3 linked regions of the Homo sapiens genome follow. The protein of the gene in region 2 purifies or fractionates together with the protein of the main gene of each other region. This does not show direct contact. Each region holds a gene or a part of one and is shown on either strand. Other genes may lie near its edges. The genes, in order: FRMD5, IRAG1 and BOK.

Evidence for each region.
Region 1: the proteins of IRAG1 (region 2) and FRMD5 purify together in Homo sapiens (affinity purification with mass spectrometry; one large-scale study listed by BioGRID and IntAct). This does not show direct contact.
Region 3: the proteins of IRAG1 (region 2) and BOK purify together in Homo sapiens (affinity purification with mass spectrometry; one large-scale study listed by BioGRID and IntAct). This does not show direct contact.

The regions. Positions count from the first base shown.
Region 1 is NC_000015.10:44,185,209-44,188,862, forward strand, and holds part of FRMD5 (FERM domain-containing protein 5), read right to left. Parts: intron 1-3,654. UniProt on the Homo sapiens protein: May be involved in regulation of cell migration. May regulate cell-matrix interactions via its interaction with ITGB5 and modifying ITGB5 cytoplasmic tail interactions such as with FERMT2 and TLN1.
Region 2 is NC_000011.10:10,572,556-10,575,790, reverse strand, and holds the end of IRAG1 (inositol 1,4,5-triphosphate receptor associated 1), read left to right. Parts: 3' UTR 1-2,696; downstream 2,697-3,235.
Region 3 is NC_000002.12:241,568,607-241,571,703, reverse strand, and holds part of BOK (bcl-2-related ovarian killer protein), read right to left. Parts: intron 1,580-3,097; coding exon 1,416-1,579; intron 1-1,415.

The sequences.
Region 1 (3,654 bases), on a different chromosome or scaffold from region 2:
TACTAGAATCTGAAGCTGGGCATAGTTTGAAGAAGTTGCATTCCAGTACTGGGACTTCCTTATGTTTTTATCAGAGTTTCACTGCTCAACAGCCAAATTTCTTTTGATAGTATAACTTCCAAATGGCCTCCCGAAGAGCTGAGGGGCTATTCTGTTAGACAGATAAGTGTATACTGAGAAATTGCAGGCTTAATATGCCTTATAACATTCCAGGCATCATTGCCAATCCATGGAGTCCTTCTGACCTACAAACCTCCAATTCCATAATAACTTTGGGGCCTTTAGAGTCTTCTAGAGGCAAGGCCAGGCATGGTGGCTCACACTTGTAATCCTAGCACTTTGGGAGGCTGAGGCGGGTGGATTGCTTAAGGTCAGGAGTTTAGAAACCAGCCTAGCCAACATGGTGAAACCCCTTCTGTACTAAAAATACAAAAATTAGCTGAGCGTGGTGGTGCATGCCTGTAATCCCAGCTACTCAGGAGGCTGAGACGCAAGAATTGCTTGAACCCAGGAGGCAGAGGTTGCAATGAGCCGACATCATACCACTGAACTCCAGCTTGGGCGACAGAGTGAGACTCTTATCTTAAAAAAAAAAAAATGCTCTAGAGGCAAAAAATCTAAAAGAGGGCAGGCTAGATGCTTTCTCCATCTTAAATTACCTCTGGAAGTACATGAGATCCTTATGTGAATTCACTAATTCTGCTTTCTTGTGTTTTTTGTCTGTTTGTTTGTTTTGAGACAGAGTTTCTCTCTTGTTGCCCAGGCTGGAGTGCAATGGCGTGATTTCGGCTCACCCACAACCTTCGCCTCCCCAGTTCAAACGATTCTCCTGCCTCAGCCTCCAGAGTAGCTGGGATTACAGGCATGCGTCACCACACCCAGCTAATTTTTTATTTTTAGTAGAGACAGGGTTTCTCCACGTTGGTCAGGCTGGTCTCAAACTCCAGACCTCAGGGGATCCACCCACCTCGGCCTCCCAAAGTGCTGGGATTACAGGCGTGAGCCACCGCACCCGGCCTTTCTTGTGTTATGATCAATGTTCTTACCTGCTTGGTTCAAGTCTAACAAAACAAGAATCTTAGTGGCACCTCCTGCCTAGAGTATTTGGAATCCTTTGGAAATCCTGAAGCCAACTTTTCCACTCAGTATCCTCAAAATTAGACTGAGGCCCAGACTACAGGCCCTTGGGTTAAGTCAGGGTGTAGAGAAAAAAGGCTCTGCACCTGTCTGGAGGTGAAGGATAATTTGCCTGACTAAGGAGTGCCTGGATGGAGTACCAGACTATGAGGGTTCCTAATGATTTGGCTTTTTCCTGCTACAAGTTCACTGAAAGTGGCCAGACATTTGAGTGTGCCCTAGGGCATGCGGGTTTGATGTACCACTATTTATTTCAGGTCTTGGGCCTGTGGGCCTTTGCTAATTTTTCTGGCTCCCACAATACCACTTCACAGCAAGCCCCCTTAATCTCTCCAATAAAGTGGAGTGTCCGTATTGTCAGTCATCCCCTATTCATCAGTCTTTAGACTATCCCTTCTTTTTCTCCTTTTCCAGAGCAAAATAACCTATTAGCATTGGCATTCTGCCGAACACTGATTGCCCAAATGCCGAACAGTGCTTTCTTGGAGGTTCCCATCCCCAAAGCTCTAGCCTGGCATTGTGTTGAGTGCTAAAAGTACACCCTGTATAAGGCTGGGAACTTCGAAGCTGTCAGGGGTTCACTGGGGAATTCAGAGACGCAATCCTCGGTCCTCAAGAGAAGCTATTTTTGGTGGCCACTTAGGTTTGGGAACAGAGATGCTGAAATGTGCCTTTTAGGACTCCATGGGTCACATTTCTTAACTGTTAATGCACAATTGGGGCTGCACTGTATTCATCAAAGGATTTTCAAACATCGGCTAAATGTTACAATTTGATACCCTCTTTTTTGTCAGATGATTAAACTGATCCTGAAGAGAAGAGTCCTCTTGGAAATAAAATTCATATGTAGTTACTGCAGCCACAGAATGAAGATTGAAATCTGAATCCACCTTTTCTTGACATAATGCCATTGCTTTGTGAAGAATCTTAATTTGTGTTATACAATTTTAGAATTAGATTTAATTCAACACTAGCTTTATGCATTATTAGTTTAGATTGATTCCTCTCTGCATGTCAAGTATGATTGAAATTTACTGACAGGAATTTTCCCCAAGCAGATTTCTGTTGTTTGACTCAACTATACCAGAGTAAGTCAGATAAACATACTAAAGAAAAAAACTAAAGACTTTACATTTTTAACTTTTCCACTTAGAAGTAGTCTGCTGTTAACTCAGCCTCTAATGCTCTTTACGCATCCCCATGCCATTTTTGCTTTTGGCAATTTTTTTTTTTTTTTTAGGAGACAGCGTTTCCATCTGTAGCCCAGGCTGGAGTACAATGGCACAATCATAGCTCATTGTAACCTCAAACTCCTGGGCTTACAAAATCCTCCCACCTCAGCCCCCTCATGTAGCTAGGACTACAGGTATACACCAACATGCCAGCCTAAATTTTAAATTTTTTGTAGAGACAAGGTCTTGCTATGTTGCCCAGGATAGACTCAAACTCCTGGCCTCGAGGGATCCTCCTGCCTTGGTCCCCCAAAGCACTGAGATTATAGGCATAAACCACAGTGCCTGGCCCTGCTTTTGGCAATTTTTCATAACCTGGTTCAAATTTCATCTCCTTTGAAAAACAATTATTAATTTTGGAATCCCTCCCCATTTCCCAAACTCCAACCCAAATCTGCATTGCCACAACATATCCCCTTGTCTTAGCTCCAAATTCCATGATGCTTTATAGTTTGTTATTTACGTGTTTGCAATCCCTAAGTTGTAAGCCCTTCGACAACAGGGGCCTTGACTTTTCCTTTCCCCTAGTGCGTCAAGTTGTGAACAAAATTTATTTTTAAAAAATATACAAATATACAATAATCTACTGTTTTTAGGTCAGGAGAGACAAAAAATACTAACCAATAAATACAACAGCATCAAACTGGTATAATGACGCACTGCAGAATCTTTAGACTCCTACCCACTTGAAAATAGGTATGCATATCTGTAGACAACCTAGCATTTACCTTGCAAGGGAAGAGAATCTATTAAGACAATTCAGGAATAAATCAAAAGTTAGAAATGTGAGATTCCTTCTTCACCTCTCCCTCTCCCTCACATTTTACATCCAGTCAATCAACACTTGTCCATTTTACCTACTAAATATCTCTGTAACCCAGTAGTAGTGATTCTCAAACCTCAGCAAGCCTAAGAATCACCTGGAAGACTTGTTAAACAGACTGCTGAACTCCATCCCCGGAGTTTTTGATTCACTAGGTCTGGGATGGGGTCAAGAATTTGCATTTCTAACAAGTACCCAGGTGATATGGATAATGCCTATCTAGGGGCCATACTTTGAGAACCACTGCTTTATCCAATCCCTTATTTCATTTTCCATGCTTTGAGAGGCCTCACAATTTCTACTGAAGGAAAAGGGCCCCTGAATTGTGACATAGTAAAATGACTCAAATGAGGCATAAGAATAGCTAGATTTGGTCCTGATTTTGAATGGTTTTTCTTGGTGGGCAGTGGTTGTCTGAGGCTTTGAACTGATCTTTAACACACAGGAATGAGTTCTAGGCAC
Region 2 (3,235 bases):
TCTTTTTACAGAAGTAGGAAAGGCTTCTCAGAAAAAAAAAAAAAAGTATAGGCTGAATTTAGCTCAGTGCTTGAAATGGGAAGATATGAATTATTATATACGCATCTGTCCACACATACACACATACTGTTGTGTACACACACACAACATGCCTGTGCACAGAGCCAACAACCCTTCAAAAGTGTGCTCTGGGTGTGTACCTCTGGATAAATAAGATGCATGCCAAGCCAACCCACAGATTTTCACCAGTGTGGGGCAGTCACCAGGCACCTGTTCAATGAGCTGTCCACATGGATTGAAGATGTTTTAAAAACACAGAAAACTCATGGCTTCAATGGCAGACTTACTAGTCTCCATTTCAAATGCCAACTCTGAGCTGCTGTACAGCACAATCTATTCCCTATTCTCTCTTTGAAAACAGTTAACCCACCTCACAGGTGAATGAGGAGAGAAGATGTGCTTTCTGCTTCAGTCTCTTACTCTGTGTGTGACCACATGCAAGAGTAAACTTGCACCTCAGTGCTTCAGTTCAAATGGGGTTTCCAACCCCAGTATAATTAGGGGTGTTTCAGAGCATCCCCAGTTATTTAGCACAACACTGAAGGAGCACATCCCCTCTCCATTTTGACTTCTCTCCCCACTTTTACAGCCACTGCCTTCATCAGTTTTGTAGAGGTTTGATTTCCATGTGGGTTTTGTTGTCATTGTTTTGCATTTTTGTTTTGTTATTGATATTGTTTGCTTTCATTGCTAAAACTCATATACGACTTACTATGAGCCAAGCACTGTTCTCAGTATTACATAGGTATGAATTCATTTAAGTCCTGAAGAAAAAGAAAAAAAAATACGAAGTGGATATTACCCTTCCCATTTTCAAATAAGGAAACTGAAGCACAAAAAGAACAAGTAACTTGACAAGGACACCCCGGTAGTAAATCATGGGGCTGGAGCTCAACCCCAGGGTAGGCTGGCTCCAGAGCTGTGCTCTCCTTGACTCTTCTGATGGTCTCCTAGCTGGAAGCCTCACATTTCAGTCTCATTCCCCCAAGTGGCCCATCAGCTACTCCATCTCTGGCTCCCCAACTAAACAGTTTCTCTCATAGTGCTGGACCTCCACTCACTAGTTTTTTTTCCAGCTGTTCTTCTCTTTTCTTCAGGTCACTCTTCTCGACCGAGTGCAAAAATTATCCCCTCCATACCAGCTTTGATGACCTTCCTTCCATACTCCTCACCAGACACAACATAATAGGTCACACACTCCTCTGTGCTTTCTGGCACGTTTTAAACATTATTATTATTGACCTTTACCTATAGTATACCATGGCCTATTTATGTATCCATCTCCCCTAGCATTTTTCCTCAAAGACAAGAACCATGTCTTACCCATCTCTTGGGTAAGTGCCTAGCATGGTGGCTGACGCTTGGGAGGGTGTCATTAAATGTTGCTCAAAAGAACAAGCAAACATTTAAGGTGGTGGAGAGCAGCCTGGGGACAGCTGACATGCTGCATGCTTCTCAGTACCAGCACCATCACAATGCAAAAAGCAACATCTTTCTTAACCTCAGCTTATTCTGTTTTTCAGTCTACTCTGTGAGAGAGCAGGAATGAGACCAGACTAGCAACACCATTGCCAAGCTCAAGGACTGGGCTCAATGCAGTCACTCCTTCAGAGAGACCCCCCACCCCAAGCATGCCCCACTTTAAAATAGCATGTTTATTGAAGGGGGCATCCTTTACAGTAGCTAGAAAATGACTGAGGCCCAAGCCAGGGTTGATCAAGGATGTGCCATTAAGGTAAAGAGTTACAGAGCAGGGCAGAGGGACTCTGGGGGCAGAAGTGGATGATTTGCCCGGCCTCTTCCAGGGGGTCTGGATACAACTGAAGGAGCTTTAGCTACATGAGGCCCTCAGAGCCAAAGACAGGATGCAAATAGAGTTCTAGAGAGTGGCCGTGGAAGCAGAACTCCAGGTGGGGAATGTTCAATCTCTGCCTCCCTTAAAGCAGGGCCAGGCTCAGCTGGCCCCATTGTTCACTTGGTCACAAGTTTCCTACCTTTGTTTCTGGATGAGTCAAAGGCCAGGAAGGCAGTTATGGAGAGCTCCTGCACCTCCAGCTGCCCCACAGAAAAGCCTGCAAGAGTACTTCCAGGCACAGGCCCTCTCCCACCCTATTCCATTTGTAAGCAAGGGAGGTCGAGGAAAAGGACATCTCCAAAAGGGAGCATAAGAATAGCCATATATACAGGGGCTGAAAAAGTGCTCATGAGTCCATCTTTTCTGGAAAGCAAAGACCAGCCTGAAGCAGTGGGAGCTGCTGCCCAAGCGGTAGTGAACTGGAGAGAAACAGGCCCTGGATTTTCAGTGAGGATGTGGATCTGAAGAGTCCCCCAAATGCCTCTGAAGTCTGACATCTCTGCTTAGCCCTAGGAGTCTGGTTCCCTGCCTTCAGTTGCAGAGTGATGTGTTTGTGTCATTGTTGATGTCACCTCCTAAAAAGACCTTCACTTTCTGGCTGCCACAAAGCCATATGTGTTGCTCCCCATATACAGCCTGACAGAGTAAATGGAGAGGAAGTGCTGGATTTGTGTATCACTGGCTATCAGTTCCTCATGTTGTTAAGCCTCACACAGGTGTGCTAGCATTGAACTGTAGAGTGTCACATACCTGAGTTTGAAAATAAAAGCACATTTCCAAACCTCTGGCAGCAGCCAAATGCCTCCTCATTTTATGGAGTTGAATTACAGTCTTACCCCAACCCAGAATTAGATGCCTTTGGATATATTAGTGCATTCCAGAACCAAGTCAGAGGTCCCCAACCCTTGGTCGTTATACTATGGGCTACCTCACAGGGGCTGGATCAGTTCCTCCTCTTCCCTTCCCCATTCCTGATCCTGGTTTCCTGTATCTTCCTGGTCTATGATTTTTTTAATTAACACAGTTTGCTGTGATTGAGTCTGCTGAGTTTTTAACCAACCTGATTTCCACAGCTGAACTATTTTTGTCTTTCTTACAGCTAGCTGCAGGGGAATGTGGACTTTCCAAATCTAGTTCCCTAAAAATAAACTCTCCTGCCCAATACTTCACACCTTTTTTTACTCCCTTCTCTGCCTACCAAAGCCAGAGGATTCAGATGAGAACACTGAGACCCGAGAAAATGGCAGAACCACTAGACGGAAGCTGGGTCTTTGAATGAGCACTCCCAGTATTGAACTGTGACATGAATAAGAAATAAGA
Region 3 (3,097 bases), on a different chromosome or scaffold from region 2:
CAGCCTGGACCTGTGGCCTTGGCGTTGCTCAAAGTGTCGTCGCCCACTGGGCACACAGTGCCCAGCCCCATGCCAGACTCCACAGGAGGAAGACAGGAGGGGACGGAAGTCTTGGGGTTTCTGTGCTGAGGGACACCTGTAGCCATGTGCGACATCTTGGGACATTGCCCTCTGCACCCCCAATTCAGCCTTCAGAGGAGACCACAGCCCCCGCAGACCACGTGACCTCAATCTCTCGAGATGCTAAAGCTAAGGCCCCAGCAGAGGGGTCTGAGCGCTGTCACCCCTGGCCGCTGATTTACACACCAGGCCAACACCCGCTGTACAGGAAAGAAGGCTAGACTCTCGGCAGGGGAGCCACCCTCCACACCCAGGGCCCAGCGGCAACTGCGGTCTGGCCGGAGCAGGGCAGGAAGTTGGGGGCGTGGAGACAGAGGAAGGGTTTGGCTCTGACACCCACCCCTCGGGGCCTTGCTTTTCCCACTCGGGAGGGCGGGGGCTGGGGCAGCGGGTCCTTAGCACAGGGGTAGGATCGGGGGTAAGTCAGTGCTGGATCTGGGCAGAGGAGAGTCCAGGGCCTGCCTGTAGGTCTCGGCCCTTGCCCCACCCCCTGCCTCACCCATCTCCCCCAGGAGTGCTCAGGTGACCACCCATCCGCCACTCCCTCCCGTACCTCTGCACCCTCGCACCCCAGCTCTCCCACCCCCACAGGCGCTCAGACACTCACCCATCCGCCACTCCCTCCTGTACCTCTGCACCCTCGCACCCCAGCTCTCCCACCCCCACAGGCGCTCAGACACTCACCCATCCGCCACTCCCTCCCGTACGTCTGTACCCTCGCACCCCAGCTCTCCCACCCCCCAGGCGCTCAGAGGCTCACCCATCCACCACTCCCTCCTGTACCTCTGCACCCTCGCACCCCAGCTCTCCCACCCCCACAGGCGCTCAGACACTCACCCATCCGCCACTCCCTCCCGTACGTCTGTACCCTCGCACCCCAGCTCTCCCACCCCCCAGGCGCTCAGAGGCTCACCCATCCACCACTCCCTCCTGTACCTCTGCACCCTCGCACCCCAGCTCTCCCACCCCCACAGGCGCTCAGACACTCACCCATCCGCCACTCCCTCCCGTACGTCTGTACCCTCGCACCCCAGCTCTCCCACCCCCCAGGCGCTCAGAGGCTCACCCATCCGCCACTCCCTCCCGTACCTCTGCACCCTCGCACCCCAGCTCTCCCACCCCCCAGGCGCTCAGACACTCACCCATCCGCCACTCCCTCCCGTACGTCTGTACCCTCGCACCCCAGCTCTCCCACCCCCCAGGCGCTCAGAGGCTCACCCATCCACCACTCCCTCCTGTACCTCTGCACCCTCGCACCCCAGCTCTCCCACCCACACGGGCACTCAGGCGCTCACCCATCCGCCGCGTCTCCGCAGCCAGGTTGCCAGGGTCTTGCGCACGAACTCCCCCAGGCAGTCCACGAGGGCGTGGACCATGGCAGGCTGGGCCTGCCTCACACAGTCCACGGCCAGCCCCGCGGCCACCGCATACAGGGACACCACCTTGCCCCACGTGATGCCTGCAGGGAGAGAGATGGTCAAGATCAGGACTTGAATCCCGCCCACGGGAGCACTTAAGGAAGGGGCTGGGCCTCTCTGAGCCGCTGTCCTGCTTGCCGTCCAGCTAATGACCAGGGACCGTCCCAAGGGGGGACCGCTCCCTGACAGGATGCCTGTCAGGTAGTTCTTGGGCAGGCAGGTTTCTCGGCCTCCACTGCACACCTGCCCAGCCCACGTCTGTGCAGGAGGCCGCAGGGACAACGTGGGGTGAGGCGAGGGAACTGAGGGCAGCAGCAGATGGAGTGAGCAGCCAGTGACCTCACGGGTGGCACCCCTGGGCTGCCTGTTCCCACAACAGGCCTGGCGTCCACATTTTACACATAAAGAAGCTGAGGCCCGCAGAGAAACTGCCTTCCCCAGACCCCTAACCTGCTGAGGCTGAACTGAGATGGGAGCAGCCTTGAAAGAGAGGACGAAAGATGGTGACAGCGGGGGAAAGAATAAAAGGCAGGACACGACGCCTCAACACGGAAAGACGTCTTATACGTGAGCGAGAAAAGAGAGGCTTTCAAAAAAGAACTATGAGCACAGAACTGGAACAGCTGATTCACAAAAGAAAATTATAATAAGAGACACGAAAAATGTTTACCTTCATTAATAACCAAAGAAAGGCAAATTAAAACAAAATGTAATCTGTTGCATTAAAAGCTTTTACGCCAGGCGCGGTGGCTCACGCCTGGAATCCCAGCACTTTGGGAGGCCGAGGCGGGCAGATCACAAGGTTGGGAGTTCAAGAGCAGCCTGACCAACATGGTGAAACCGTCTCTACTAAAAATACACAAAAAATTAGCCAGGCGTGGTGGCACGCGCCTATAATCCCAGCTACTCGGGAGGCTGAAGCAGGAGAATCACTTGAACCCGGGGAGGCGGAGGTTGCAGTGAGCTGAGATCGCGCCAGTACACTCCAGCCTGGGCGACAGAGCGAGACCCCGTCTCTAAATAAATAAATAAATACATGCTTTTAAATGGCAGTGTGAGGATTCAGGCCACTGCACAGCCTTGTAAACCTTGGTGGGAAGCCCAGCTTGAGGGCACTGGCAGTATCTGAATGGCCACAAAACATGCAGCCCAGCAGTGATCCCCGCAGGGAGTTAGCAGCGGTCCCCGGAGGGAGTCAGCAGTGGTCCCTGGAGGGAGTTAGCCTGAGGACACTGTACATGCAAAGATGAAGCACTGCTCTCCAATCCACCCTCATACAGCGGCCAACCTGGATTTGTTATGAAAACATAAATCAGCTCAAACAAACACTCAGTCACAGACATTCACAGCAGCCAATTCACAATTGCCAAAAGGTGGAAAGAACCCAAGTATCCTTCAACAGATAAATGGATACAAATGTGGTGGATGTTACTCAGCCACAGAAGGCAGGCTGGGCACAGTGGCTCACGCCTATAATCCCAGCACCTTGGAAGGCCGAGGTGGGCAGATCACCTGAGGTCAGGAGTTCAAGACCAGCCCGGCCAACATGGTGAAACCCC